Linked DNA regions of Homo sapiens: regions 1 and 2 are each linked to region 3. The links come from fine-mapping of genetic effects on gene expression. A gene starts in region 3. Each other region holds a variant in brackets. All regions are shown on one strand. Distances are from middle to middle.

The links.
Region 1: its variant is fine-mapped to the expression of MIR646HG in whole blood (INTERVAL, PIP above 0.99).
Region 2: its variant is fine-mapped to the expression of MIR646HG in whole blood (INTERVAL, PIP 0.98).

What each region holds. Positions count from the first base shown.
Region 1 is chr20:60,047,195-60,058,056 of GRCh38, forward strand. It overlaps LINC02910 (long intergenic non-protein coding RNA 2910), which reads left to right and starts at 8,731. Exons shown (of 4, transcript NR_161293.1): 1 at 8,731-8,814. RefSeq lists enhancers at 10,419-10,468, 10,479-10,658, 10,754-10,862. The variant G/A (reference allele first, on the strand shown) is at 5,248.
Region 2 is chr20:60,315,167-60,326,028 of GRCh38, forward strand. It overlaps MIR646HG (MIR646 host gene), which reads left to right. Exons shown (of 5, transcript NR_046099.1): 4 at 3,755-3,841; 5 at 5,467-7,090. Among named protein-coding and RNA genes, the nearest start is that of MIR646, 12 kb to the left of the region's middle. The variant A/G (reference allele first, on the strand shown) is at 4,063.
Region 3 is chr20:60,132,547-60,143,408 of GRCh38, forward strand. It overlaps MIR646HG (MIR646 host gene), which reads left to right and starts at 5,946. Exons shown (of 5, transcript NR_046099.1): 1 at 5,946-6,098.

The DNA of each region.
Region 1 (10,862 bases), 85 kb before region 3:
TTTCCTGGATGTATAACCTGGCTTTTCATCGTGACATTCAAAGTAATTCACAGCAGGAAACTTAACACGCACTGAGCTCTGTCTTCATCATATGAAGAGGACAGCAGTTTGCCCATTTTATAGGTGAGTATCTTGAGTCCTTAGGAGGATCAGGGTAATGTATTGAAAGTCATCTTAGGAGTCAGTGACGGAACAACAATGTGTGTGCTCTGACGATGCAGGTCTAACCCAGCAATCCTTGTTACCATTGCCCGAGTGTAATACAGGAGGTTGGAAGTGGCTTTATAAGAAAAAAAATTATGATAATAATAATGATGATGGTGACGGTTATGACGGTGGTGATGAAGATAATAGCAGCGAATATTTCAATACATTTTAACAGCTCCTTATTTGCCATACACTAAGCTAAATCATCTACTTGGATTATTTCTTCAAACTGTCAACAAACTAATTTCCATCTAGCCTGAAATTTTTCATGCTCAGTACCATTGACATTTGTGGCTGGATAATTCTTCATTGTGGGGGGCCATCATGTGCATTGTAAGATGTTCAGCAGCATCTCCGGCCTCTACCCACTGGACTCCAGCAGCAACCTCTCCTTTCCTAGTTTTGATAACCACAAGTGTCTCCAGACTTTGCCAAATATCCGCTGGGGGACAGAATCATCCCCTGTTGAGAATCTCTGCAGAATCCCGCATTCTTTTCCATCTACCTACAAGATCTCACCCACATGGGGATGCAGTCTCTCCCCCAGTGCTTCCAGTACTTGCCCCTGGGCAGCCAGGTCCACTGTGAGGCCACTCAATTCATTACATCACTCATGTTGACCATGAAGACCCTAAGTCATCAAGGAAGGTTCCACTGGGTGCAGCAAATGCCACTCAGGTAGTCAGGAAAAGTATGTGCTACAGTTAAGAAATATCTCTACCCTAGAAGGGCCCTCACTATTTTGTGTTTATTTTTATTTTAGATACAAGGTCTTGCTCTGTCATCCAGGCTGGAATGCAGTGGTGCAATTATAGCTCACTGTAGCCAGTTTTATTCTTAAAGACCTAAGACGCGGTGGCTCACGCCTGTAATCCCAGCACTTTGGGAGGCCGAGGCAGGTAGATCATCTGAGGTCAGGAGTTCGAGACCAGCCTGACCAGTACGGTGAAACCCCGTCTCTAGTAAAAATACAAAACTTAGCTGGCTATGGTGGTGAGTGCCTGTAGTCCCAGCTACTTGGGAGGCTGAGACAGGAGAATCGCCTGAACCAGGGAGGCAGAGGTTGCAGTGAGACGAGATCATGCCACTGCACTCCAGGCTGGGCGACACAGCGGGACTCCATCTAAAAAAACTACAACAATGACAACAACAACAACAAAAAGAAAACAAACAAAAAACCCAAAAAACCTAAGGCCTTAGCTATCTAGAAAGTTTGAGCCCCAAAGTAGATACATTTTTGGAGTGTTCCTCATAATCAAGATCTTCCTGCATTTGCCTCTTCAGAATATTTTACAAATGTTTGTTTTTGATTTTCCTGATTGCCTGTCTTTCCTTGAGGGCTGGGTTGTATCTTATTCATTTGTGTGTTCCTGATCCCTATTACAGCAGCTGGTATATGGTAGGGACTCCGAAAGTATTTTTACATGATGGGTGAGTAAGTGCGCCAATGATTGCTTAGTAACAAAGTAACAAAGGTCTTTGACGATTCCAGGAGCTGCACTGGAGCCAGGGCTGCTGCCTGACTGATCAGCCAAGGTAGGAGCTGAAGTTTCATGGGCCAGCAGCCCAGGTGGGCTCATGAACACATCAGTCCTGGGTAGTGTGGTGGAGGTGGGGCTGCATGAATCCATCCCCAACTGTCATATCCCAGTGTCTGATATGTCTGCACAGCTGGAGGCGGCTAAGTTTGACATTGCTTCAATTTTCTCACTAGTAAAATGGGGATACAAATGCGTATCTGGCAGGGTTATGATGAGGATTAAATTGGAAAAAAACAACTATTTCAATTGTGCTTGACAGAGAGCAGGTGTCCAGGAAATTTCATTTTCCTTCTCTTCCCTTTCTGCCTTTTCTATCTGCCTAACACCCCTCATGCTGGGAACTTCTCTTCTGTCCATGTTGCTATTGAGACTGTTAATCACATGTTCCAAACTGACCAATCAGAATACTCCTTTGTTCCTGGTTTCAGTGATTGGTCCAGCAGTGGGCACATGACCTGGGAAAGCCAATGAGAGTCTTTCGGGGAGGGGGACTCGATATAAATGCAGGGTTTTCTCTGGTCTGTAAGGTGGTGAAAATCCGAAGTTGAGCGCAGGCGGCCGGTTTGCTCACATCAGGCCTGCTAACTGGGGCTAATGATAATAATGATGACAGCTTGGATTGACAGCACACCTGCCATGTTCCTGTTGCCTTACAACCACTATCTCCAGCCTCCCTACCGTCTAGCATGTGCCTTGCTCCATACCTGCCTTCCTGAGGTGCAGAGGACAGCAGCGTGGAGAGATGGAGGGACAATGGGTGCCGATACTATTGTTTCGACACCTGCATCCGGTTTTGCCTGAAGTCTTTTCATTTGCTGGATATCTTAGTTCCATGAGTCAATATTCTTCTACTTCTTTTTAATCCAGTTTATTTTAGGTTGTTGTGACTTCCCATCAAGAGGTCCTGACTAATATATGATTCATCTCTTTTCCTTCTTTCTTGTTTTTCTTCCTTCCTTTCTCTGCCCTCCCACTCCCTTCCTTCACCCTCTTGCTCCTCTCTCCCCTAGGGTCCTTGTCTCTCCTAGTTCCTAGCCTGGATCCCAATTTTGTCCTTGTCTTTCTGTCCATTCATCATATCCGTGGAGTCCTCAGATAATTGTCATACTGACTCCTAGACATTTACAGATTATAATGCAGATCTTTCAAGGCTCATAGGCACACAGCTCTATTAGGAGAAAGATGCGGTGATGTTGACATTTTGGATGAGGGGGTCAAATATTGTTCAGCTCCAGTCAGAGCCACACTTCATATTGCAGGCTTCTGCCTGGTTCATTTTCATTTTTATGCAAGCAAACCATCACAAGAGCCCGCCTGTGTTTACCCCCTGCCCAGGTGTATTATGAACATTGTCTCTAGTTCCTACCTGTGGCTCACATAGCTAAGGACAGCAGGGCTTACCTGGCTGGGGCTGAGCGTCTCAGGTGAAAAGTGCCACCTGGAGGTGGGGTTGAGAATGAACTCCGCCTGATGGCCATGTCTGGGTCTGGCACCCCAGGAGTCCACTAAGCAGTCATAGGCAAAGGATGCCATTTGTCTCTTGGGTTCACTAGTGCAGTGGGTGACTTCTGCCAGCAGGGAGTTGGTGGATATTGCAGGGTTGGACTGTGTTTTTCAGAGGAGCGGCGATGAATTAGCCCATTTATTTTCCCATGGTCTGAAACCCAAGGAACATCTGTCTGAGCCACAAGCGGCACGTTTTGTGGCTGGTGGGAGGACCCATGTTGCAGGGTTTGATTATGCCCATCAGCCGGGGTTGCTTGGAAGCGTCAGGGAGAGCTGGTGATTAATCACCAGGCACAGTGGCATGGATCCCCTGTGTAATTATCCCTATTGCCCTCAGAGCCGATTATGCTTCCAAAGGGTAGCGGCTTTCGGAAGGAGGTGAGTGCAGGCTGGCCCCTTTGCTCACACCAGTCCTGCTAACTGGGGCTAATGATGATAATGATGACAGCTTGGATTGACAGCACACCTGCCATGTTCCTGTTGCGTTACATCCACTATCTCCAGCCTCCCTACCGTCTAGCATGTGCCACCTTCAAGGTCTTGGCCGTGTTCTTCTAACGCTGATACTGTTATTTACTTCAGTTTTTTCTTTAAATCAACTCAATTTTTTATTTAAATGTATTTTTAAAGTGGGGTACAAAAAATTAGAAAGAATGAATAAGACCTACTATTTGATAGCACAACAGGGTGACTATAGTTAATAATAACTTAATTGTACATTTAAAAATAACTAATCAAGTATAATTGGATTGTTTGCAACACAAAGGATAAATGCTTAGGGGATGAATATCCCCATTCTCCATGATGTAATTACTATGCATTGCACACCTGGATCAAAACATTTCATGAACCCTATAAATATATATACCTACTATGTACCCCCAAAAATTAAAAATTAAATAAATTAAAAAATAAAAAAGTAAGATTTCCAACTCTCTTCCAAGTAGAAAACTAGTAAGGCTTTCTAAGAATGGAAAGAAACCATACAAAATATGACATAAAACATACAACTAAATGCTGGTTGGTAGTATTGCCTGTGAGGACCCAGCTGAGCCCTGCACCCTCTTTATTATGATGGGGTCTTTAATAGAGGTGAGTGCTGACCTGAGACTTTTTATGTAACCAGAGAAATAGAAGGGCAGTTAGAAAAAATAAAGCACTTCTCATCATGTCTCTACTGGTATACCTCAAAAAATCACCAAGGTCTGTGTCTCAGGCATCAGGGGTGTTCATGTATTTGACTTCCCATACTTCTCACTCCTCAAGTTGGGCTCTGTTACGTCCATTTCAGAGTTGAAGAAACAGAGCCAAAAAGAGGTTGCAGAGAGAGGATGTTCAAGAAGGGGGATTCCAGCCCAGGCTCTGGAGATAGACCATCATTGTTCTGTACTAGATGCCATGTGCCAAGTTCTGAGCTTGGCACTTCACCTTCATTACCTTGTTCTATCCACATTCCTGCCCTGTGGAACTGTTATGGTTTTCATTTTATGGGGGACACAGAGGCTCAGTGGGGTGCAGAGATGGTCCCAAGCTCTCCTGGCAGTAAAACAAAAGCAGAGTTCTTGACCAGGGCACGGGGTGCTGCAGAGGACACACATTCCCACTCTCAGATGCTGCTTGTTCTCTCCACAACCAGCTGTGGGGCAGCTGCTTTGCCAGGGGCCCTGAGTGTCGGCAACAGCCAGAATAACAGGGAAGCAGAGAGGGAGTTTGCTGGAAGGGCTTGGGGGAATGCACAAATGTAGGGCAGAAGCTGGAGAAATGGACCTAGAAAGAACCAGAGCCTAGGCACTCTGGTGTCCGGGAGGCCTCAGGGCTGTGGCCAGAAGACATAGGCACCTTTTCTACTCTTTTGGGGGTCTTCTCCTCAAAGGTGGGGACCTTGAGCAAGAGGGTCCAGTGGATCTGCTCAGGTTACGTGCCTCCCCTCTGGGCAGGGTGAGATCCTTGTTTGGAGAGTCCCACCCAGCAGGATTCACACAATAGGAAGTTG[G/A]GGCGGGGGGATCAGGGTGCTATCATAAAGGGTAAGAAGGCTAAGACTAACCTCCGAACATGCAGAAGTTACCCACTATATGCCAGTTGGCCCTGTGCCAGGGGGCCTTCTATCATACTATCCTGTAGAGGTAACAAGAAGTCCCAGCCTCAAAAAGGGGCTGGCAGGCTGGGTCCTAGTTCTTCTTTGCCATGGCTCCAGCATGGACTTATACCCTGGATTGGTTGTCTCATTTCAAAGCAGGGAAAGATCTCTGAGAGCTTTGCCCAGCTCCCTGGATGCTCTGCTCCAGGTGATCTTGGCACCCTCTTCTGGGTCTGGCACCCACACACTGGCACACCTTCCATGACCCTGAGGCTCATGCAGCCTCCAGACTCACCTACCAGTTCTCTTCCTGGGATTCTCAGCTTTCTAGCATACCCTCTTCCAGAGGTGGGAGACCTCCAGTTAAAAACAAAATTGTACACAACCGCAGCCTCATTTCCATTGTTTAAGAAATTAATTATCTTGGTGTATCTTTTCCAATAACAGCTTTCATTAAATTAAACCCAAGGCATTTATATTCCCTGGGAATAACAGGCTGCTTATATATGGCGGGAATGTGCTGGAATTTCTTTAGAAATCAGCACATTGGCTATTGAGGACTAGCTGGTGATCACAGGTATAGGTTTTGAAGTTAGATTGTCAGGATTAAAATCCAGGCTCTGCCATTGCTGGCTGTGTGGTCTTGAGCAAGTTACATTACCTCTCTGTGTCTCGGCTTGCCCATCTGTGCAATTTGGACAGTAAGAGTTCCTATCTCCCAGGCTTGTGGTAAGGATTAAACACGTTCATGTAATGATCAACAAGGTTAACTATGAACATGCTCACAAAGACACACATGGGCTCTTCTGGCGCAATAGGGACGTGGCCTGGAAGCTCACTGCCACGTGGCATTTGGGACCACAAGGGATCAGACCTCATCGTCTGTGCACAGATAGACAAGATCATAAAGAGGAAAAATTAGCATCGGGAAACTGGTTATTTATTTAAGATTGAAAGCGGGAGAAATCTGCCCTGGACATCTTCCCCTCTCCTCTGTTTGTTTTGTCTGCCAAACAGAGGCAGTACCCCCTCTCCACTCTATTTATTAATTGAGTAAACTCCGTGATCCTAAATGCAAACAAACATGGGGCCAGCACAAACAAGCACGTGCTTCCTGTACGCGCCACTTCTGAGTAGCAGCCCGAGCAACAGGTGGACTGGCTGGGAGACAGAAACGGCTGCAGAAGGCGCCTCCAGGATTTGGCGTGAGAGCCCTGCAAGGTCAGCCCATGTGCTCCTTCTTTGTTAGATTGTTTGTTCATTCATTTGTTTATTCATTCCTTTATTCAAGTGTTTAGTGAGAACTTCCATGTGGAAGACAAAGACCTAGCTCACAAGGGGTGCATGGTCTAGGGAGCTAGGTGTGGACAAAGAGCCACGTAGGATGTCAGTGCTGAGATGTGGCAGCCACGGGGAGCTATGGAAGGGGGCAGAAAGAAGACCCCAGAGCTCAGGGAAGGCCTGCAGGGCAAGTAGGGAGTTGTCAGCCCAGCAAAGAGCCAAGAGTGTGAGGAGAAGGTCTGCCAGCGCCTGAAGGGGAGAAGCCATGGTTCACCAGCTTCAAGAGTTGATACAGTTGAAAGCATCATCTCTCCATGGCCAACATCCTGGGCTGTGGCTTTAATTTGGGCATAGTGTGTGCCTGCAAAACCTCGGCTGTATTCAACCTAGTCTGCCATTGATGGAGTGAGAACTGCCCCCAAATTATTTACATTCAAATTTGGAAGCAACTGAAACCCAACAGTAGGAGATTCATTACAGTAATTCCATGGAAATGGAATAATACGCTGTCGTTAAAAGTGTTCAAATCTTTTATGGTTATGATAAATCTAATAATAAAATCGAGACAATATTAGAATATATATTTTAACATTTTCCTAGTTTTGTGAAAAAAGCCCCAAATATCTGTATGAGCCTAGATAAATGACAAGAAAGGAAAACAGTAAGATTTTTATAATGGTTATTGCTCAATGGTTGGATTTTTAAAAATACTCTTCTATAATTTCTAAATTTTATGCCCTGAGGATGTATTACCTCCATAGTCAGAAAAATTATGAAAGGTATTTAAAACCCAAACTGGCTTTGGGCATGCAGAATGCTTGGTTATTTCTGAAGTATAAAAATAACTCCCCCTCTGTCCCATCAGCACGCGTGTTGCAGGGAGTCTGACGTTGCTCGCTAAGTCTCTTTGGTCGTTTCATACTAATGCCCTTTGCTCCCCTGATTATCTCTCTGAGGTTGGGGCCGGGGGATGGGGGTGTGCTAGGCCTCCTGGATGTCTGTCTGCTGCCAAAACATCCTCTCCTGTCTCTGTCTCATTGGTGCATTTTGATGAACCTGTATTGCCTGGTCACTGCGCGCTAACCACCAAATTATGAAACATTTGTGCTGCAAGGGAGCTGAGAGATCCTTAAACTCAATGAACCATTAGGCATAAGACACACACACACACATACACACGTGAATACACACAAACACACAAACAGCTTGGCTGCTCTGGGTGAAGCATGTGTGTGTTTGGGGGAAATTTCCTTCCCCACCCGTGGTCGTCCATTTGCCCATGAGCAGCTTCCGAGGCAGGTCCGTGGACCCCAACGCTGTGTAACACCGTGTGAAAAACACAAAGGCTTGCAGCCCTCTCACTGCAGACGTGGGAACACGACTCTGTTTAAAACCCTTCAAAGCCCGCCTTCTTGCCGTGTGATGCTGCCTGGGCCAGCAGGGCAGGTCACCACGCTGTCTCTTCAAAGCAGCTCGCTCATGCCCACAGCGCTGGGCACAAGGGCAGCCACGAGCTGTTTGATTTCTGCGTCCCCAGCAGATGGCTTGGTGCACAGGGGCAGGGCTCGTCTGTCCCTCTCACTGCTGCGTCCCAGGCTATGTCTCCACCATGTAACTTCAGACAAGTTCCTCAGCGTCTCTGTGTCCTGGTTCCCTCATTTGTAACATCAGGATATTGATAAGGATCATAGTAATAGGGATGTCCTTATGGGGCCTCATGAAAATGAAGAGTTCTCTGTGATGTGCCTGGAACCACAGAGGGCAGCAAGTGGGAGCCACAGAAAGTCATCTCTTTATCATAGTTGTCATTGGTAACTATGACGGTTATCAAGGGCAGGGGTCTCCCACCTTCTGCATCCAGGCCTTGTCATTCCTTATAAAATTTTCTCCTTTCAAGGACTTTCAATGCCCTGAAAACGGAATGCTCCTCCCTGCTCCCCATCAGCTGCTGCAGAGCCCTGAACCCCTTGAACTTGCCTTGCTTAGTTCTTTCAGGGGCTGCCTTGGATGCCACCTCACTTCCCTCTTCTTGGCTCTGTGGCTGTCAGAGGGGCTGGGCACTGGGTTACTTCATCAGTTCCTGGGTGTTGATCGGCAGGAAACAGTGGTTTCCTGTTCATATCCTGCCTGAGCCTGGGCCGGGTGGAGGTGTCCTGCATGGAGTCTTGTGAAATCGCGTGGACTGCAACACCCAGCAGCGCGGTGAGTCCACCCTGAAATCCACAGTGACCCACGCGGCATGTGCTGGGAATTGAACGCTTGGGGAAAGAGCTGGGCTCCAGCGGATCAGCCCCGACCAAGTCGTTCCCACAGCTCAGGACCGGACGCTACAAGCCCACTTTGTAGCAGTTTGGCGGACGGCAAACTTTTGCAACACAGTGCAAAAACCATTTAACACCTTTAAGGGAATTGGAAATGGGTTTTTCATGTGTGGTGGTGCTGAAAATTGAGAATAATGACAGAATTATTAAAAACAGCCTTCTCGGCCTTAGACTCTTAATTGCCTCTGGTCTGTAAAACTGACAAATAAGCACTGTAGAAGCCACAGATGAAATATGTCGTCTTGGGAGCCCTGGAGAATTGTCTCTGAATTCTTTTGTTTATGGATTGTAGAAACTGCTTTGGGGGTAGTTGGATGTAGAAGCAGAAGGACAGAGTGGGGAGCTGGGAGCAGGAGGCCTGGGTTTGTCTCCTGAGTCTGTTTCCACTGGGGCCTGAGGCTCCCGTGTGAGGGAACATGAATGGGCCAGGCACATGGGCCCTGTGGGGTGACAGAGCTGTGGGCTCCATGGTGGCTCTGTGGGCAGCTAGCTTGGGGATGGCTGAGATAAAGACAAGTAGTTTTCCTTCCTGCAGGACTTCTCAGAGCCTTTAGTGTGGTTATAATGATAGAAAACAGTATTAAGTCCATACCCTGAACCAGAAACAATGCTAAAAGCTTTGCACTTGGCCTTTTTTTTTCTTTTTCTTTTATCAACATGTGTGAGGACGGAAGCTTAGGCTTACAGATATGGACTCATTGAGAGTGAGTGGACGTGTCTGATCTTTAACCCAGTTCTGTCTGACCAAAAAGCCTGTGCTCTAACCACTGTGCACCCCTGCCTGTCTGTCCTGTTGAGAGAACTGTAGGGAAAGCCTTGAGATTATGTATCCAGTGCTCCCCTCCTCCTGATTGGAAGATGGCAGCTCAGAAGGTTAGGGTGCCTTCTCCTGTCCTCCGAGTGGTTAGATGCACGTGTCCTCTTCTGTCCTCTGCTCTTCCCACATCCCTCTCTCTCTGGTGCTCTGGTGGAGCCCCTGGGATCAGGGGTCACAGGAGCACCTGGGCCATTTGCATGGTTGTTGGTAAAGGGTGTTCCCCCACCCCCCATTAAGGTGCCTGCCATCAAAGTGCCTTATTGCTTGAGTTCCAATCTCGGCTTCACAACTCTGTAGCTGTGTGACTTTGCACAATGTACTGAGCCTCTCTGTGCCTGAACATCCTTGTTTGTAGATAGTAAAGATAATTGTCCCTTACTCCTAGGTTTCACATTGAGTGTTTAGCAAGTTAACGTTTGTAACGTGTGAAGTCATAAGATGCAGGACTGGATGACTGCCCTACCCACAAGAGGCCTAGGATCTTCCCAAGTTGCACTACTTATGGGACAGGTCTGCCAAGCAGCCCTTGTGAAGATAAAGGTGGTGATGAGTTCCTCCCACAAAACAAGAGCCTCAGAGAGACTGGAAAATAACCCCCGGTGCCTTTTATCAACTGGCCAGCAGATGGCAGAAGCAAGCCAGGAACAGAGCTTGTGTGCGGCGGCTGTGGCAGCTACCTTTGAAAATCCCGTGGTGTTTGGTGGTCGTATTAAGAGATCTCTGGTGTAGGAGCATCCTTCATTCTAAGCAGGATTCTGAACAAACTCAGAACTGGCTTTGTGGCTGGTACCGAGGACCCAGGGGTCACGGCTGCTCCCAGTGGGTGCTGATGCCCATTTGTTTGTGCAAGTTGGTCCCCTGTAGGGAGGACAGATGGTCTGTCTCGGACTTTCTGGCCTGTGCACCAAGGCCCAGGGATGGAAGTGGGGCAGCATGTCCCCATCATTAAATAGGGCGTTCTTGATAATAATCCCATAAGGCCTAATGTGATGGGTGTGGTCAATCATTCATTCATTCTGTGAGGATTCAGTGAGCAGCTACTCCATGCCTCTAGGCTCTGAGGACGCAGCATGAGAAACACACGGAAGGCCCACGATGACCAGGGAGCTCGC
Region 2 (10,862 bases), 180 kb after region 3:
GAGCATAAATCTAATAGGAACAACAGATAATTTTTAAAAAATATATCAATGTGTGTAAAATTTCAACAGGAATAAGCCCCAAGGAGGTGTGGTACCTGGGGCTATAAGAGTAGCTAATAGTAGAATTTGGGATAGTCTTGGGGAAGGAGAGGGCAGAGAAGGCTTCCTGGAGGGGTGATGGTTGCTTTGAGAGTGGAGAGAAAGAACCAGTGTTCTTGGAAAAGAGGGTGGCCTGAGCGAAGGGCCTGTGGCAGGAGGGAGTGTAGAATTCAAGGAACTGGGAGGAGGTCCTTGTGGCTAGGAATATGCAGAGTAAGGGGAAAAAGGCAAGAAATAAGGCTGGAGAGTGGGGAGGGCCACAGCACACGAGGCCTTCCCTGCCCACCTTGCCCACATGCCCCAGACGTACTGAGGAGCTGGATTTGGTCATTGTTCTTATGAGTGCTGTGTTCCCAGATTTCCCCTTCATAATCTGGCGACATCCACCAGAGCCAGCTCCTGTGTCCCTGATGTGATTACCCCTGACTCCTTCCCCTCCTGACACCTGCCCCAGGTACTCACACCTCTACCGATGATGCCTCAGCCTGGCCCTTTGGCTTTTTGACCTTGGACCCCTCCCCACTCCCTCTCCACCTCTCTGCTTCCCACTTCCCTTGTTTCCAGCTGCTCCTTTCCCTGTGAGCCATATTGGTTCCAGCCCCAGCCTCTGCAATAGCTTCCCCAAATGAAGTGAATCCGAGGACCACGTAGGATGTAAGCCCCGTCACCGTGGTGTTGGTTAGTGAATGTCTCTTTACTGTCTATTTCCCCATTCAGTGCCTGTCTCCCCAACCGACTGAAAGCTGCAAAAGGACAGAGTCCTTCCCAGGGCCCAGCACAAAGCTTAACACGCAGAACATGCACCATAAATGATATCCAACCATGACCTTCCCCTCCCCCAAACTGCCCCACAGAGCCCAGTCCCACAAAGCCTGAGACAAAGGAGCTGCTTTTCACACAGACAGACACAGACAGACTGATGGACAAGCTGGAGGACCCGGGGACGGTGAGAAACAGGCTCCAAAAGCATTCTGGCTGCCAGTATTTAACACACAGAGCTATTTTCAGATGCTAGTCACAGACATTTTGAACTGCATTAGAATAAACAGAATTCTGAATTATCTTCTCAGCAGTACATGAAAGAACTGTCTATCACCCAAAAGGGAAAGAGAGAATGATGAATTTCTAAGGTAAAAATTCTGGAAGAGGGAGGAAAAAAATCCAATCCACAGGCGGTTCTGGAATCTTCTCACACAACAGGTGGTCCCCCGCCCTCCAGTCCCCTAACTCCTGTGATTAGGAGAAAGTGGAAAGCTGTCAGCTAGACTGGGCTCAGGCTGGGTATCTGGGCTCTTGGAAATGTATATTTATTTGCTCATGCTAATGGTCAGCAGGCCAGGATAAATGGGGCTGGGGCATTAATGCAGAGCCCTGTAAATCATGCATGAAGGGGAAGACCATGCCCAGCACCGAGGGGCCAGCCAGCCGAGGAGGCTGCATGAAATATTCAGCAGCCAGACAGACTCAGGCCTGCTCCAAATCCCCACGTCCAGACCTCTGAGGATGTGATTTTTGCAGAAAGCTTTAAAAGAACCTCAAATGCCTTATCCTTGTGTTCCCCAAGTCTCCTATCAAAGCTGGTTCTTGCTGAATGGTGTCTCTGTGTTCCGCCTCTGGGGCGTTGGTCATGAGGACCCCACACTGATGGTTCCCCTCCCCTGTGCCACTGCAGCACTGCTCACCCATCCGGCCCCGCAGCAGGCTGTGGTTTCCCTCCCTGTCAACCACAGGGCCCTTGTACATACTTTCCTGTTTCAGGAAGGTCTCTGCCTGGCTCATCTTGCTCTCCTTCTCTTCTTTAGGTCTCAACTTGGATGCTACCTCTCCAGAGAGGCCTTTGTTGCACCACCCACCCCACCCCTAAGTTGGCCTTCTGTGCAGTTCTCTAGCTCTGTCCTCTGTCCTCTTTCATGCCCTATCACAGCTGTGCTCATTTTGGGGGCATGCTGTCACTGGCTCTTTGCTGTCCTCCTTTACCAGAATTAATCTCCATGCTAGAAGAGGCTCTGTGGGCCCATCCTTGCTGCACTGCAAAGCAGCATCTGGCATATGGCAGGACTCAGCATAAAGTCAAGGAGTGAAAAACAGGTGCCTCTCAGCAGGCATGAGGTGAGCCTGGAGGTTCATCCCTGGACTCTACATCTCCTCTGCAGAAAATGTTCTGATCCTTGGATATGATCTTCAGGTTCCCTATCCGTGAAGTCTGTACAACCAATAAGCCAGGCAATGATTTGATGAATAGGAATAGTAAGGTTTTTTTCCTGATCCATTCTAACTGCAGTAGCCAAGTTAACATATGGCAGTGTGCTTTCTCAGGACAAACAAACAATGATAGATTCATACCCAAGCTGAGAGGGGCGAACTGTAATGCCATCCAGCTTCCCTCCCAGTACAACAGGGCCCTCTGGCTTTGTGTGGGTGCTTGTGGATAGACACCTCACTTCCTTCCAAGGTAGCTGGTTCCACTTCCAGCCAACAGCTCAGGCTGCCTCCCAGCCCAGCTATCCTGCAGGTTCCAGCCCCACAGCACGTGTGTCTCTGTGTCCTCTAGCCAGTAGGCTTCTCCCCCAGAATGCTGGATTTCTTATGGAGATTTTCCTGGATAAGATGAGCAATTGGGCTGACCATTGGACCATGTGTATTGATGCAGTTATTGTATGCACCCAGAGATGGAGAGGCCTGGTGCTTCCATTCTGATGTGCTCTTGGAGAAAGCCATTGAGGAACTGTGGTCAGCAGGTGTTCCAGGAGTTTCAGCGCCATGGGCTTAGTGGGGCTTCATGGCCCTGTGTATGCATTTCCGTGTCCTGCAGCCAGGGTGTCAGCTCACTGCATTCATTCAATAGCTCCTGAGTTCCCACTGCATGCCAGGTACTGTGTGTGTGGTGGTGGGGGGTGACTTTTTATCAAGCAAAGTCAAACCACACATGCCCCCTGCCTTTTAAGAGTTCAAGATCTGTAGCACAGACAGCCATGGGGACTAGGAGCTCCAGCACCGTGAGCTGTAGTGGATGTACACAGAGTGCCCCGTGGGCAGGCACAGGTGGCAGCTAATTCCAGCCGGGCTGGCTTGGGGATTCCTTATGTGACACCCACTGTAGACCCAGCCTGCAGCTGTTTCCTTCAGTGGTCACCTCCGCCTGATGAAGGAAGGCAATGCGTTCTCGTGTGAACGGCTGCTCTTTGCTTCTGGTCCAGGCCTGCTCGGACTCCATCTCGCTCATGGCGTGGCTTTGAAATGATGCTCATCAGGCTCCCTGACCTGCTCAGGGATAGGCCACTGTGAGAGTTCCGCTTTGATTTTCAAGCAGCTGAGACACCAGAGGCGTGGTGAATCCCCCCAGCCCTCCCCTCAGAATAAGCTATCTGTCCGGTGAGAATAGTCACTCCTCCTGTTCTTTGAGGACAAGACCAGCAAAAGACTTGAGTCACCATTTCCAAAGAAAAACAAGGAGAATGCAAATTTCTCGGCTTAAAAATATATACAAAGGGATTGATTCTATATAACTCTCTGGAGTAAGAAGAGCTGTGACTTCCATTGGCTGGTGCTGTTTAGAGAAGGATCGCTGTGCTGAAGTTGAAAAAGAGTGTATTCAGCTTTGATATTTGGAGAAAGTGTCCCAACCATCATGTATTTCTGCCTGGTTTTCTTTTAGAATGCACCAGCTGGAGTCGACATTAAAGGGCCCCATTTCCCATTTGCTGCAGAAGATGTTTAATTGGAAGTCTCTCCCTGTCCTTTTGTAAGCCTCATTTCTGCATATTAGCTTTACACATGAGTTCTGGGGTGACTGGTCAAGACGGGAGTCTGTGTGTAATTAGACCAGACCAAGGAAGAAGCAGGAAGTTTGCTGGCGGAGAACATGGGAGTCTCTGTATCGCCTTTAATCACTCTTCCTGCTTGGTGTAATGTTCACATGTTGTCTTTCATCACAGCCATGGGGACAGAGCGCCAGTTCATGCT[A/G]TCTCCTCACGGGGCCCTTCGGTCCATCTCCACCCACCACCCAGCCCTCACTGTCATCTGTCTGACCCCATTGGCCTTGCTCTTCTTTTTGGAACATGATAACCTCCCGCCAGCCGCCCCAGCACAGTCTCAGGACGTTTGCATGTGTCGTGGCCCCTGCACACTGTTTCCTCAGCTCCTGGCCTGCTTGTTCCCTTCCCATTACCCTTGTCTCTGCTTAAGCATCAGCTCCTCAGAGGTCCTCCTGACCAGCCCATTGCAAGTACCCTTTCCCCTTCCTCCTTGCGGTTCTGTTGCTCCCTCCACCTTGCAGCTCTGCAGCTTCCCGTGAATGTGATTGTTTACATGCTGACTATCATGTCCCCCACCTGGCTGTTCACCCCTTGACACCAGCACCAGCTTTCTTTCTGGCTGCGTTGCTGCCTGTGCCTGCAGTGGTGGCTCCGTAAGCATCTGCTGAACAAACGCATGGATGAATGAGCCCTTTCAGATCCAGGCTGTGTGGGGCTCAAAATTAAAGAAAACAACATACAAAATGACACATATAAAATTAGGAATGGGGTTTATTTAAATTCTTAAAAGCTGCTAAATTTCTGTACGTCACAAAACTATACAGTATTGAATATTTTAATAGTTACCTGATTGTATTGTACGTTTTCCTACATTTTTCTCTTGCATACATTTTGCCTTTTCATATGACAAAAATGTTTGGTATTGCTTTTAACAGGACAGAAAGATAATTCCTCTAGTGTGGTCAGATAAAGCTTTTTTTTAAAGTTATGGATAGTTGGTGGCATGCAACGTGCAGATGGTCACACAGACAGACTCATGTGGCATTGGGTAAGGTTTTGTCCTATAGACACAAGAATTTTGATGTATTCTTTTTCTTTCTTTTTTTGAGACAGTCTTGCTCTGTCACCCAGCCTGGAGTGCAGTGGAGCAATATCAGCTCACTGCAACCTCTACCTCCAGGGTTCAAGTGATTCTTGTGCCTCAGCCACCCAAGTAGCTGAGTAGCTGGGATTACAGGTGTACACACAACACCCAGCTAATTTTTGCATTTTTAGTAGTGGCAGGATTTCACCACGTTGGCCAGGCTGGTCTCAAAATCCTGGCCTCAAGTGATCCACCCACCTCGGCCTCCCAAAGTGCTGGGATTACAGGCATGAGCCACTGCACCCGTCCTTAGATTCTTTTTCATCCCATAAAAAAAAAAGATTCATTTACATTTGTGTATATGCATTACAAATTATTCCTTACAAGGGAGAACATTTATTTTGACTAGGTAATAATGAGAACTGAATCCTCTCCTGATAATAGCGTGTCTGATGATAAGAAGATTTTTCTTAGACTGGCTTCTGGCTCCATACATTTCAAACCTTGCTCCTTTTCCTCTTCCACCAGACCCTCTGGTGCTGGGCACCAATGAGAAGCTCATCTGGCCCCGGGATCCTGGCAGGACACTGGGAGCACTATTTCCATGGGCAGCAGGGTTGTTCCTGGAGACATCACTGACCCAGGACACCTAGCACAATGGCACTCGATGTGAAAGTGGCTTCGTACAAATCTGCCACTCAAGCCTAAATAAGTGCATTCCAGAAGAGCCGCAGCCCCTCTAACAGCTCCTGAGGTGAGGGAAACCCTAGGGATGGGAAGTTGGAGCAGAAAGAGATGGTGGCCTGAAGTCAACTGCAGTGAAAATCTCTCCCCATCAGCAAGTTTTGCAAAGCTATGGCCACAGGGACACATGACTGGGGCCCCTCCTAGTCTTGGAAGGAGCCCCCATGGAAATGAGGGCCTCACAGTGAATCCACCTCTGATCCTACTTCACCTGCAGTCAAATGAGAAGAGATTTCAATCAGCTAAAGACACCCTATCCCCTCTCCCCGACCCCTGCGACCCCAGGAGCTCCTGCCTTGTCACTGTGTCCCCAAACGAACCGCATCTGAATCAAGCCCCTTTCTCTCCCTAGTGGTCAACATCTGGGCTGTGATGGGCAGCTCCCACTCTTGCCTTAGAATATGACTGGAGAGGTGACTTCTCATCACATGGAGAATATGTTCACCCCATGGTGCTTTCCACCCAAGCTGACCATGGCTTGACTTTTTGGTGTAGTTGCTAGCTCTGTGCCATCCTTGGCAATGTGACCCTGGAGCAGCTGTCCCCAGTGTGCATTTGGGGGATTTCATGTAATTATGAATAGGATGCAAATTTTATAGCCCCAGTGAAGGGAAACACCCCTGGCGAGGCTTCCCGGGGCCAGAGAGAGGACTCCACTGAGGGAGATGGTGGCAGGGCCATTCTTTGTGTCCTGCTTTTTTTTTTTTTTTTTTTTTTAACATCCTCTTTATGTCCTGAGAGCCATGTGCAGATGAGGAAAAATGACATGCAATGCATTTTTGCCTGCCACAATGACTTTGCAATCATAACAAGCAAAATGTTCTAAACAGTAAGTGAATCGAGGAAGATATACTGCCAAGTCAGGAAGAAAAAATCCACCTGTTCAGTGATTTCAGGAACTGCTGAAGAAAATCACCAGTGAGTATCAGTTTCTGCAAGAGAATCTAATGCAGGCTTTGCTTCTCATCGGAATCCCCCAGCTGGTGTCTTGGTTGACTGAGAGTCTGGGGGAGAGGGCAGAGAATGGATTTATTCTCTGCTAGGTTTTTAACAGTCAAGAAGGGCTGTGGTCCTAAGGGGCACTGGTCAAACCTTAGTGTGCATCAGAATTATCTGGATAAGGCTAGGCACAGTGGCTCACGCCTGTAATCACAGCACTTTGGGAGGCTGAGGCGCGTGGATCACCTGAGGTCAGAAGTTCAAGACCAGCCTGGCTCTTTTAGTAGAGAAACCCTATGTCTATTAAAAAGTACAAAATTTAGCCAGGTGTGGTGGTGAGTGCCTGTAATCCCAGCTACTTGGGAGGCTGAGGCAGGACAGTCACTTGAATCTAGGAGGCAGAGGTTGCAGTGAACTGAGATCGTGCCATTGTGCTCCAGCCTGGGCAACAAGAGTGAAACTCTATCTCAAAAAAAAAAAAAAAAAATACCTGGAGAGCCTGTGAACATGCATAGTGCTGGACCCCATGCCAAAGATACTGATTCAGCCTGTCTGGGGTGGGCCAGAGATTCTGCATTCTGTCTAAGGAGCTCCCAGGTGAGGCACATTTGCAGACCACAGTCTGGAGGTTTGAGGACTTGGAAGACCATGGCTGACATATCTTGAGTCTCTGCCTTGGTATCCTTTGCCAAGCAGAGAAATGCACTGTTTATGTTTTTCAGGAGCTCAGGAAGCAGAATGCAACCCATGCAGATGTAGGGGCTGGATTCTCTCTATGACTGAGTGGGAGTCTCAGCCCCAAGAAATGCCCCGGGTTGGCCCTGAAATCCACAATGGCTTGCTGGGCTGGAGGCCACCAGCTGATGGGACCCAAGAGAGGAATGAATTATTTATCTGGACTCCTCACAGAGAACAATGCCCTGCAAATGTCCCCCGCACCATGCTGGGTGGAATTCATAGTCAACCTAACAACCAGCTTAGCATCTTCTCTCCCGGACCTTGCCCCTCCAACCGTATCGAACTTTGAGGAGCAATTAGGGAATTGCTTGACATCTTCCCTGCGAGCTCTTGGGTCACAAAAGCTAATTAACCTTCCTCTTGCCTTCCAAACTAAGTAACAACCTCCAGAGCCAAGTCTTCTGGAACAAAACAGGAAGGAAGAAAGAAACTAAGAAAGAAGCACTGTCTCTGATTTTTTTTTTTTAATGAAGGTTAACATATAATTTTTAAAATGAACTCCATGGAAAGGAGGTTGTGGGGTTCACAACCCCTGGGAGCAGTTCCAGCAGTGCCAGGACGGTCTCAGTGGCAGCCCTCTGCTCATCTTTGAGGTCTACTTTGCCCAGCAGCTAACTCTTGTAGGTGGAAACATGGTGGCTTCTTGTTCTCTGGGAAGTTCTGGATGGGAACTTGATGTGGGAAGTTGTGAGGTGCCCTGAACTTGGAGGTGGGGCTCATTGGCACCACAGTGATGGTCCCATCTGTGCCATGTAGACTTGACCAAGCAACTCAAGGTGTCCTTAATGTCCCAGACTGAGAGAGAATTTGCCGGCCTCCACCTTGGAATATTGTTGACTTTCAGTGCACGACGCAAGTCCTCTCCTTCAACACTCCTCTCTAAGAAGATACACAGTCAAACACTTAAGGACTTGGGCTTGCGGAGGGTGTAGATCTGGGCTCAGATTCCCATTCTGACACTTACTGGCTACGTGACCTACACTGTGATTCCCAAATGCCTGCATATCCACATACCACTGTGTCCCACTGCACTAGCTACCCGGAGCTGCCATAACACATTGCCACTAACTAGGTGGCTTAAAACCAGAGGAATTCATTCTCTTATAGTTCTGGGGGTCAGAAAACTTTTTTTTATTTGTTTGAGATGGAGATTCGCTCTTGTTGTCCAGGCTGGAGTGCAACGGCATGATCTCGGCTCACCGCAACCTCTGCCTCCTGGGTTCAAGCAATTCTCTTGCCTCAGCCTCCCGAGTAGCTGGGATTACAGGCATGTGCCACCACGCCCAGCTAATTTTGTATTTTTAGCAGAGACAGGTTTCTCCATTTTGGTCAGGCTGGTCTCAAACTCCCGACCTCAGGTGATCTGCCCCCCCTTGGCCTCCCTAAGTGCTGGGATTACAGGCGTAAGCCACCACACCTGGCCCTGGGGGTCATATATCTTAAATCAAGGTATCAACAGGACCAAGCTCCCCAAAAGCTCCAGGAAAGGATACTTCTTGGCCTCTCTTCTGGCTTCTGGTGGCTGCAGCAATCCTTGGGGTTCCTTGGCTTATGGATGCATCACTCCGTACTCTGCTTCCGTCCTCACTTGACCTTCTCACCTACCTTCCTTTACGTCATCTTCCTTCTGAGATGCTCTGTGTCCAAATTTTATTCTTTGTAAAAGGATGCCAGTCATTGGATCAGAGACCACCTTAATCCAGGATGACTTCATCTTAACTAAATTACATCTGCAAAGATTCTATTTCTAAATAAACCCACATTCTGAGGTTCTGGGTGGGCATGCTATTTGGCAGGACAAAGTCAACACAGGACACTCATTTTCAGGATTGATCGCATGGTTTGAGGAAGCTGATGGTGACATCTCTTCTTAAATCTGTTTTCAGGAAAATCATACTGGTAGCCTTCAAGTGGCCATGGTGGGAGCATTGACCCAGGGAAATCCACATTTCCCAACACATGCTGGATACCTGAGGACTCCAGAGCTACTATCTGCTCATATCTGCTCAACATTAAAAAAAAAAAAAAAACCTCACATTGTTAAGTGAAAAGGTTTATTGGCAGATTTGCTTAACTCAATTTGCAAAGATACCTTAGACCAGGGGTCGGCAAACTACATTCCACAGAACGAAGCTGCCCATTACTTGTCTTTTGTTTGTTTGTTTGTTTTGTTTTGTTTTGTTTTGAGATGAAGTCTCGCTCTTGTTGCCCGGGCTGGAGTGCAATGGTGTGATCTCAGCTCACTGCAACCTCAACCTCCCTGGTTCAAGCAATTCCCCTGCCTGAGCCTCCCAAGTAGCTGGGATTACAGGCACATGCCACCATGCCCAACTGATGTTTTTGTATTTTTAGTAGAGATGGGGTTTCACCATGTTGGCCAGACTGGTCTCGAACTCCTGACCTCAGGTGATCCACTGCCTCAGCCTCCCAAAGTGCTGGGATTACAGGCGTGATCCTAAGTACAGTTTTATAGGACAACCATGCTCATTCATTTCCGTATCGTCCACGGCTGCTCTACAGCAGCAGAGTTTAGTGGTCAGGACAGAACCGGCACAACCTGCACAACCTGCACAACTTTCAAAGGCTGAATATTTACTCTCCGGCTCTTTAGAGAAAGTTTGCAACTCCTACTTTAGACTGATGCTTCTCCAATGCTAACGCGCCAGTCACCAAATCACCGGCATCTGGTCCCAGCCTCCAACCATAAACCACAGCTGAATGGAAACTTGGTAGCGCTTGCCTTCAATAGCAGATGCTGTAAGAGGAAAGCAAGGTGACCAAGAAAACATTGCAAAACTCTGGGCAGAATCTGGGGCCTGAAGACTCTGAGTCAGAGGCCTCTTTTTTTGCTCTAAACACATATTAGCAAGAGTCCAAGAGGCATCAAAGATGAGTTAGCAGCAAAATGAGGCTTTGTCCTTCATGTAGAAAGGATTAAATGATAGTTGAAAATGCAATAACTTTCACCCTGTGGGATTCAGTGATGTTCAGTGCTGTGATTATGTCCAACTTCAAATCTTGCTGTCCCAACTGGGACAGCCCAAACATAGGGAGCCACTGCACTAAGATGTTATGATTTATTAAGATAATAAAGCTAGCGGGATGACAAATGTTTCATTTTTCCCCCATGTGTTTCCCCCAAAGGACCGTCTGCTTTTGCATGTGATTTGACTATGCGCTGAGGACCTAGCGTGGTATATCAGCAAAGTGGAAAAGTGACTGAAGTGACTGTTTATCATCTTGTACCAAGTTACACCACTTTAAGCTTTAACTCCACAGCTCTTGCATTATTTTAAAACCGTCTGGCAGATCTCTAAAACTAATGGTACAAACCACTCTGTGATACATTAAAATACATCCCACTCTGTCATACTGCAAACAAGTAGCTGCTCCCCAGTCTTTGAAAAAGTACTTTCAAGATAAAATATGTACTCATGGGTTCTGCAGGTTTTTAAAAAGTCTTGAATCTTCACAGATTTACTGGGGGGGAAGGGGCGTTTCAT
Region 3 (10,862 bases):
TGGTGACAGTGGGTGACCAGGTGGACCTGAGATGCAGATTCGTGCAGAGGTGTGTGCAGGGGTGAGTCATCGAGAGGCTCTGAATGCCAGGCTAGGGAGTTGGCATTTTATCTTAGTAGATTTCAAGCACTGGCCTCAGAGTTCTCTCTTCAAATAGAACTTTACAAAAAAATAGCCAAAGGCAATACAAAACCTAAAGATGAACTTCCTGTGATGGAAAGTGAGACCCTGAGTGCAGCGTCACTGGAGGCTCTAAGATTCCTAAATGGAACCTCCTGGGTGGCTGAGGGCAAACCGTCAGCAAGGCATGTGACAAGCACAGCGAGCCAGTGAGGTTCCTCCCCTCCTCCAGGTAGGAAGCACCTGTACCTGGATCAGGTGGGCAGAATGGAAAGTGTGAGGAAGGCAGGAAGAGCCGAAGTCAGTGTGCCTGTTGGCAGAGGTAGGGGCCAGGACAATGCCGATATTGACAGCAGTGAGAAGCCAGCACCCCCACATGGGGAGGTAGGCATGGGCAGCAAGGTCCCTTTAGAGGTAAAGGTGGAACACCTCTGTTGCTGGGCTCCCCAGGCTTTGGGTGTCCTCTGGGCCTGGTCTCATGGAGTAGTTCAGGCTGGAGACTCAAGACTGCAGAAGACGCTATGGCGAGGGGAGATCCACCTTTGTGTGGAGTTTGGCTACCAGTGATCTGTGCATTGAACTGAGAAACCACCTCCTGGACCCACGTTTCTTTTCACGTGAGCATTTTTGTGATGTGGTGGTAGACTGAGCCAGATTATGACCACAAATGATTGCTCAAGAGGCGATCTGTTAAATATTTAATGTGCAATCACAGTTGCTTGCTGTGGAGCTCCTTCTCCGTCTGAGATGAGTAGGGTCTATTGGCGGGCAAGTTCCAATTTAGTAATGAGATCATTATAATCCTGACCTCCTCGGAAGGATCCTTCACACCAGAGCAAGCCACTTCTCTGAATTCTCTCCACCTCTTCCCAGCATGAATTTAGTTCTCACAACTCTCAAAGGAACTCCCATTTCCTGTTTCTCCCCTACTCCTGACCTCACTCTCACTCCCCTTAGCAAAGTTGTTCTGTCCTTCCAGACTCCTTCACGATGGCTTCGCTTCATCTCACAAATGAGACGCTGAACACTGCTACTTCCACACACTGTGCTTTGTCCCTTCAGGGACAGAGCTGGGGCCTGGTTTCAGCTCATAAAGAGCTCACAGTCTTGTGCTGTTTCTTGGACCAACAGAGTCAGAAATAGCAGAGGTTCTTGTGAGCACATAGAATGTTCTGGAGCCCATCTCAGATCTTTAAATGAGACACTTTGGGGTCAGAGTCTGGCCTCCTCCTTTTACTACACAAGACCCCTGGCTTGGTTAGGGGTTCACCCTTACACCAAACTCCTAGAGTGGTTGATGGTTTCACCCTCTGTGGTGGTTGATCTTAGGTGTCACCTTGACTGCGCCTCTGGGTGCCCAGGTTAAACATTGCTTCTGGGTGGGTCTGTGAGAAGCCTTCCCAAAGAGATTAGCATTTGAGTTGCTGGACTCAGCACAGTAGATTGACCTGCCCCACAGGGATGGGCATTACCCAATTTGTTGAGGGCCTGAATAGAACAAAAGATAGAGAAAGAAGGAATTCGCCTTTTTTCTTGACTCCCTGCTTGAGGTGGGACATCTCATCTCATCTTCTCCTGCTATCACAATAGGATTTACACCTCAGCTCCCCTGTGTCTCAGAGCTTTGAACTCCAATTATACCATGGGCTTTCCTGGGTCTCCAGCTTGCTAATGGCAGACTGTGGGACTTCTCAACCTCCATCACCACCTGAGTCAATTTCTTTTTTCTTTTTTCTTTTTGTTTTTTTTTTTGGAGACAGAGTCTTGCTCTGTCACCCAGAGTGGAGTGCAGTGGTGTGATCTCTGCTCACTGCAACCTCCGCTTCCTGGGTTCAAGTGATTCTGCTGCCTCAGCCTCCCGAATAGCTGGGCCTACAGGCATATGCCACCATGCCTGACTAATTTTTCGTATTTTAGTAGAGATGGGGTTTCACCGTGTTGCTCAAGCTGGTCTCAAACTCCTGAGCTCAGGCAATCTGCCCACTTTGGCCTCCCAAAGTGCTAGGATTACAGGCATGAGCCACCGTGCCCGGCCACAAGTCAGTTTCTTATAGTAAATCTCCCCACACCCATATGTGTGTGTGTGTGTGTGTGTGTGTGTGTGTGTATATATATATATATACACACACACACATATATGATATATATATACACACATATATAATATATATACATATATAATATATATATACACATATAATATACACATATATAATATATATACACATATATAATATATATATACACACACATATATATAAGATATATATAATATCTCCTATTGGTTCCGTTTCCCTGGAGAACCCTGACTAAACCACCTTCCTAGAGAATCTAGAAAGTAGACTTTGCAGGAACATTTTCTCCCTTTTGCTAGTTGTTTTGTCTTGTGTGAACCTGAAAGAGCCCATTCTCCGAAACAGCTCTTAAGCATCTAACTGGGCCTAGTTTCCAAATAGAGCCAAGCAGCCATTTGCTGACTAGAGGTCACACACATACTCTGTGTTCCAGGAAAGCACACACCCTTGCCATGTAACTTAGGGACATTCAAGGCTGTTTTTTCCTGTTCATGCCACCTGAATCAGTAGCTGTGGGAAAACCTTATTTTCCTCCTGGACCTGAGCAATAGACTGTGACAGCATCGGCCAATCAGAACTGAGCAGTTTACATCCCACAATTGCATAAGTGGCCCAGAGTGGGAGGCTGGGTAAGAGCTTTCTCTATCAAAGACAACCACTCTCTTGGTTCTCTCCGGGCCCACCTTTGTTTTGTACTGAAGGCTGCATCTCCCCAGTTTGCAAACTGCTTGTGCAAATAGAGTCTCTGTTAACCTAATGCTTCTTTCTCAGGTGTTTGGTTAACACTTGTACATGGTAGGCATTCTGTCTATATTTGTTGGGCAGATGTGTGCGTCGAAGTGGTTAAACTTTCCCAGCCAGAGTGGGCATCTCCTCTGGGGTAAGGAGTTGGTGACATGCAGGTACCTGAGGCCCTGCCATGGGTGCATGGGCTGTGATTGTCCATAGACCACGTTAACTTAAACTTCTGGTCTAACACATAGAGTGGGCATCTTCCTAGGAAACCCTGGAAAAGCAGCAGATAGGACTGGCTCTCAGCAGTGACGAAAAGCAATAAGAGGACAAAATGTGGTACTTTACACAATGGAGTACTATTCAGCCATAAAAAAGAATAAGAACCTGTCATTTGCAACAACAGGGATGGAATTGGAGGTCATCATCTTAAGTGAAATAAACCAGGCACAGAAAGACAAACATCACATGTTCTCACTTATTTGTGGGATCCAAAAATCCAAACAATTGAACTCATGGAGATAGAGGGTAGAAGGATGGATACTAGAGGCTGGGAAGTGTTGCGGGGGTGAGGAGGACGGACATGGGGATGAATAAGACCTAGTGTTTGATAGTACAATAGGGTGAGTAGAGTCAACGATAATTTAATTGTACATTTAAAAATAGCTAAGAATATAATTGGATTGTTTGTAACACAAAGGACAAATGCTTGAGGAGATGGATACTCCATTTTCCATAGTGTGATTATGGTGCATTGCATGCCTGTATCAAAACATCTCATGTTCCCCATAAATATATACACCTACTGTGTACCCATAAAAATGTAAAAAAATGATTAAAAGTCTAGATATAATTTAAAAGAGGAAACTGTCTTTGTGTGGAGGCCAGCTGAAGACAGATACTGCATCAGGCACTTGGCAGCCTGGTTTCCAGTAGCTTCTCAACCCAGTGGAGTAGACTCTATGGCCCCATTTTGCAGATGAAGAATGGAGGTGCAGAGAAATCACAGCTCTAGCTTTGTCAGGAGGACCATAGAGGTCCAGGGGCTGGAGGTCTGAATATTTAATAGAGGGATTTGAATAACCATGGAAGTTAGCCTGGAGAGAGATTTAGGAGGCAGATAAGCCTAGTGTTCACTGTGGGGGCAGATGCCTTCCCCATCTGTGCAGACGATTGGCCCAAGTGGCCATGATGACATGGCTCCTACCTACTTCCTAATGGACCTCAGAGAATTAAACAGCGAGGACAACAGCGAGTGTTGTCTCTCAGACCCTTGGCTTTTTCAGGACTGCCTGACCTTTCTTTGTCCTTATTTGGCTTCAAGTCAAGTCAGCTCAACCCTGATTGAGCACCGGCAATGAGTCATGTCTGTGAAGGCGACACAGCCCCTGTCCTTGAGGAGCTTCGAGTCCAGTGACTGTCACTTCAGTGGAAGTTGGGCTGGACACAGTCACATGTGTATGCCAGACATGAGGCTTTGTTCTCATTACAATAATTGCCCTGCATTATTCTAGCAATTAAGCTTCTCCACGTGTGTGGATGCATGTTCCCAATTTTTTCTGGCCTCTACCGAACACAATGTTAATATTTGAGAGCAGTCCTAAAAAATTAAATAATTATACAAACTGAATTAGGATAGCATAATATTACCAATCAGAGTAATGTGGCTTTGTAATCCAGTGTGATGTCATATGAATCTACAAATTAGGAAGCATGTCAGAGGAGGAAACCACATCCTTTATTGCTTTGCCTTAAATAGCTTAAAACTAATCTTTTCCATGAGCCAACAGCTATCTCTCATGTTTAATAATGCTCCTCCCTGCCCAGATGAAGCTAACTAAATGATGTTGCCCCCTGCACCTGCAAATGCCTGGTGCCAGGGCAGGGACACAGGGAATGGCAGAAGGGGAGACCAGATGTTGGCTGAGGCATTGATTTATGGGCATGACCTTCCATGTGCCCCGAGGATGGCTGAGACCAGGGTTTGATGAATGCAGTGCTCTGTGTGAGAAGTTCTAAGGTGACAAGCAAAGATTCTATCCTCTGGAGGGGCAAGCCCTATTATTAGGTTGGTGCAAAAGTAATCGCAGTTTATGCAGTTGTAATGGCAAAAACAGAAATTACTTTTGCACCAACCTAATACCAGACAGAGGAGGTGCAAGTGCATGCCACCAGGGCAGGTGCAGGTGATGGGGGCAGAGAAAACTCAGATGTCTCCAATCTGTGCAGAGTAGGGAAACAGAAAAAGCTAAGTGAGGAAAGTGAGATTGCTATCACACAGATGCATGTCTTAGGTTTTCTGATTCCATTCCTCATGAATTTCATTAAGTAATCAAAGTGCTAAGCATGAAATGTGGGTATGCTGTCACCAGGTGGCAGCAGCATCCACTCTCCAAAATGCATTTTGTTCAAACCTAGTATGTGCTGGGTATTCTGAGCACATAGCAGAGACTAAGGCAAAGAGTCCCTGGCACTGTGGAGCTTAGAGGCTAATGAGGTGGCAGGTGCTTACACTTTAGAAACCGTTGTGAGGAATAGCTAGTGGTAGTTAAATGATACAGTGATAGTTAACAGAGAGGAAAGCTTTTCTCTCACTCCAAGCTATATTTTTATTATCACTATTAATATAAATAGAAAATAAATATTAAAATAGTTATTAAATAAGCAAAAGATAATGTTGCATTTAGTTATACGATTAAGTAGAGGTTTTCAAATATTTTTTAGCTTTGTGCAACCGAAATTATATGAGGAAGCAAAAACCACAAATACAGAAAATAAGAACTTTTCTGTTTGAACAGAAACGAGGACACTGGGGAGGCCCTTCCAATGCAGGCCAGACTTTTAGGGGCTCGACAGAACACAGCTGGAGAAACATCCACACCACACGCGGTTTCACCTGCCACACGGCAGCCCGGGTGCCCGGATCACTGTGTGTGGAGACTCAGGCTCACCGGCAAACCTCTTCCGGTTCCGGTCAGGGTGCTGCCTCCCTATCCACTGGGAGTCCTTTTGCGTTTCAGATGCTCCCAGGCTCTCCCGCAGTTTAAAGACTTAACTCAGCGGCTTTCAGGGCCTGTGGTTGAGGGACTCCGAAAGAACTGTTGCTGGTGGACCGGTTCAGGGTCTTGACTTCGCCACACAAAAGAACTTGAGAGCACGTCCAAAGTAAAGGTAAGCAAGGGAGTTGATCGCACAGCGAAAGCGCACTCTGCCAGCGGATCGGAGCGGCCGCTCAAAGGCGAGGCAGTGCTGGCCGACACTGGGGAAACCCCCTTTATGGGGGTCTTACATGATTATTCATGAAGGGCTGGGAAGGGGTGTTGCCGTGAAGCATGTTCTGGGCTGTCTCCTGGTGGCACATGTGCTGTGGTTGTGCATGCTAGTACACACATCGCATGTCTCGTTAGCATCGTAAATCTCCACCCAGTTCTTTAGTATTCTAATGAGCGCAGGTCAGCCCAAGGACACTCATCTTGGGTTTCTGCACTTGGATGAATTCGCGGATTTTTCCTTCGCTCTTTGACCTCCTCGCTAAAGGATGGTCTAACCACGAGCCTGGGATGCGGCTTGTGCACCGCAGGTGGCTTGTTCTCGCCATCTATTTAGCAAGTTTGCTCTCCTTTAAGTGAGGCTGTGACCACCCTCTCTGACCTACCTCAGAACCTGTTGCTTAGCTTCAGAAATCCAGCCTGGTGCTGGGCTGAGGTCAGCCTGAGGTCAAGCCATGCCCCTGAGACTTAACTGCCCTTGGATACCAATTTTCAGCAACAGAAAAGAATGAAAATAAAGTTCACATGAGGGCTAGTGCTGCTGGCAATGAGAAGGTCCTGTGACTACTTTTATTACCACTTCAACGATAAGGAGGTGACCTTTCATTCTCATTTCTCTCTCTCTAATATTTTGCATTCTCCAACTGTTATCTGTAAGAACATCTTAGCGCATTTGAAAAGCAGGGAAAATATGTAATAAAAACCACAACCAACCACACCATCTTAATGATAGCACTATTATTTTGTAATTCCTTCCAGTATCTTTGCCCAAGGTTTATTACTTGTTGAGTATTTGCAATTGTCCTCAGTAAAATTCTGAGACATGATTTTTAATTTAACATACCTTAAGATTTTTGTTTGCAGGTGGCTGAATTTCTTCAGAAAAATTATTTTAAGGGCTACTCAACACTGAGCAGTTAGTATTCATTCAGGTGGCCATTCTCTGATGCCTGTATTGCTTCCAGCTGTTGGGAAATGAACCCAGTGGAGAATATTGTTTTTCTTTTGCTAACAACAACATCCGTTAGGACAGATTTCCACATGTCTGATTGCTGGGCCGATGACACAAACATCGACAATAGCGCTTCACGCGTGTTGACTGATGATTTCCAAAAGCTTATCTTCCCAGTAGGCAGTTTGCCAGATGCTTCCAGAAATAGATGAGAATGCCAATTTCATCACACTGTTGCCAGCACTAGGTATGTCCACTACATTTTAATGCTAGTGTAATAGGCAAAGGGGACCTGCTGTCTGTTTCACCATTCATTTCTTTGCATGGTTGTCAGGTGGGACATTGCATTCTCCTGGAGAGGCCAGATCACTATGTCTCCCAGGAGGCCCTAGCAGAAGCTGCTCTGGTGTCCAGCTCCTGTGTGAAGCCTCCCTGGTCCCTGACTCTTGGAACAGACTTCTTTTCTGCCCTTTAAACACCCCTAACATCATGCGTGGTCCTTTGCTATGACACAGTTGTTCCCCATTCTGCATCGTCATGAGGCTGTCTACACCCTCTCTCTCTCCTGGGCAGGGCTCCGGCTCTGCAGGGGATGGGGACGTGTGTTACTCTGTTAGTCCCCTGCCTTGTCCAGCACAGCACTGTACATGCCACAGAGGCCCCACAGAGCTTGATCAAAAACTAACAATGATTAAACCAAAATTACGAATGGACAAAAAATTTCCATCAAGAAACCTCAACATTTTAATGTTCATGAGGGGGGAATGTAGGGTAAATGCACCTGATAGTAATAAGCATACCCTTAGAATGACCCTGTATGGCAGATGCGCCTAAATGTGTGTTCTGTGCTAGGGAATCCAGGAGTGGCCAACCCGGAGATTGATTCTGTGTCTATGATAAACATCTGAGCCCCTGGCCTGTTCTGTGGAACGTGGGCCGTTCACGGGATTGAGGCCCTGAGTTTGGGATTGGATGAAGGTTGCCAGGGCGAGGTTACCAGGAGGGTGTTAAGTGAAAATGGTATGTACATGACATGCTGTTCAGAAGAGGTTACAGTTTTCCTGCCCGGCCCGCCACCACTGGAGCATTTCTGTACATAAGGTGATTTCCCTGTTCAGCCCACCATCATTGAACACTCTCCCTGCACGTAAGCCCCTAATAAAACCCCATGGCTTGGTTGCTAGCTCTGGGTCTCTTCGGCCTTCCTATTGAGCTTAATAGGGGTTCAGCACAACCATGGAACAAAGAACAACAAAAAAATTGGTGATCTTAGCTCTAGTTTTCTTTCCTCCCTGAATCACTTATGAAGGGAGTCATGTGGCCTTTCAGCCTTATCTCATTTGAAAACAGAGGCTGTAGGATCAAATCTCAGTCCCCTTAGTCCTATATTTAGGAGTCAAACTCTGACTTCTTCATGGGGCTGTCATCAGATGGCAAAGCACACAGGGCAAGGTGGAGCAGGAAGCTGCTGGACGCTCTGCCTTCCTTATCGAAATAGTGAGGTTACATGGGGAGAGCTGTGGTCCTGATTCACTTGAGTGTTTTTTAGGGACCTACTATGTGCCAAGCATTGAGCTGCCTCTGATAGTGAAGGTAGAATGTGATCAATAATAGCTGTGTTTAACAACACTGTTGTCTGAGCTACTTATGATGTTAGAGCTTGATGTCAGGAAAGCCAGGTGATCAGAGTTGCCATTCAGTATTTGGCCTCACTAGTAATTTCTTCATTGTATAAAGCAGTGCTTCTCGTGCACTAGCAAGCATCAGCACACCTGGAAGACTCATTAAAACACAAATTTCTGGACCCACTCACTGAGTTCCTGCTTCAGTAGATCTGGGGTGAGAGCTGACAATTTGCATTTCTAACACATTTGCAGGTGATGTTGCTGGTCTGGGGAAACCACAATATGAGCGCCACTGCTGTCAATTGAAATAATAACAGTTCCCATATATAGGCGATTTACCTGTGCCAGGTGTTATGTGGACAGCTTTACTTGCTTTATGTCAATTCCAGAGAGACTTACAAAGGAACTATTGATAGCTTTAATTTCTGAGATGAGGTATCTGAGAGTAAAAGCTGTGAAAACCCTGTTGAAGCTGGCACAGTGAGTGGGATTGGGGCTGAGCCCCCGTCTCTCTGGCTCCAGTCACATTGCTATCCATGCTTGGTGCACCCACTGACTTACCAAGCCACTCTACCTCCTTGGGGACCCTTCTCCCCATTTACCAATAAGTCACCTTCAGATAACACTGGGCACCCCCCAGGCAGTGCAGATGCCACCTAACAGAACATTCCCAGTTCCTCCTTCAAATTCTTGGGATGTTGTTGCCTTCACCCCACTTCTCCATGTGCCATAATCACTCAATAAATTGTTCCTGTCATTTTAAATGTTTGCCTTTTAAATATCAATAATCTTGTTTCAAGATTTTCTCTTAGTCTTTGGGTTTTCTGCAGTTTGAACATAATATACCTAAGGGTATGTGATTGTGGCTTTTGTTTATTTGTTGCTTGTTTTGTATTTATCAGTTCTCTGGGTCTATCATTCATTTTGAAACGTTATTAGCCATTATTACTTTGAACACTCATGTGCTGTTCTCTCTTTTTCTGGTATTCTGATAATACATACATAAAGCCTTTTGATGTTGTTCCACAGTTCTTAAGGATTCTATTGTTTTTTGTTAAATATGTTTTTCTCTTTGCATTTCAGTTTGGGAAGTTTCTGTTGCCATATGCTCAAGCTCACTGATTCTTTCCTTGGCTCTGTCTGGGCTACTGAAGAGCCCATCAAAGGCATTCATCATTTCTTTTGCAGTGATTTGATTTTTTGTATTTCCTTTTGATTCTTTCCTAGTATTTTCATCACTCTGCTTATATTACTTATCTGTTGTTGCATGTTATCTAGTTTTTCACTGGAACCCTTAACATACTAACCACAGTATTTTAAATTATCTGGCTAATAATTCAGAGCAATAGGAACTGAGGTCAACAGGCCTTAGTGTGAGGATTTATGTTCATCTGGCTCAGAGTTGGGCTGTGTTCAATATTTGCTGTAGGTGCCAGAAGCCTCGCCTCTTGACCTTGAGTCCTGCTCTTCAGAGCCTCTGTCTGGAGCTGTTTCAACTGTAATTCACTGCTGTTATACTGAAGCCCTGTTGTTGAGGTGGTAAATTGTAGGGGAAGGGGAGTGTCCTATAATCATCAAATTAAATCTCAGTCTTTCAGTGGGGCTCTGTGTCTGGCCTGTGACTTCACAAGTGTTTCCCCCAGCCTTAGGTGAGACTGGAAGGCTGGAGGGAGCTGCAGTAGAAAATGCCCTTCCCCAGGCTGGAATGAGGCTGAGAAGTCTTTCCCTTGGAGAGTGGACCTTCCAGGGGAAGGAGAAGGTCTGGTGTCTTTCATAAGGAATACTCTTCCTTTCCCTGCCAAAGCTGGGAGCAGCTCTTTCCAGGATCTTCACCATCAGAACCTGAAGGGCTCCTGGAGATAAAATCCATAAAAGTGTGAGGTCTCCCCAAGGCTGCAGTGACCAGTCTTACATTGCCTTCTTCAGTCTCACACATTCAGTTCATAGGAATGTGTCAACTTGATCATCTAAGTGTTCCTACCAGTTTATGTCTACAGCGGCTTCTGCTCCAGAGAGGCAGAGTTCAGCTGTGATTCTCTGGACTCATCCAGAGATGGAGAGATTCCAGATTTCTGGGTAGTGACTTACC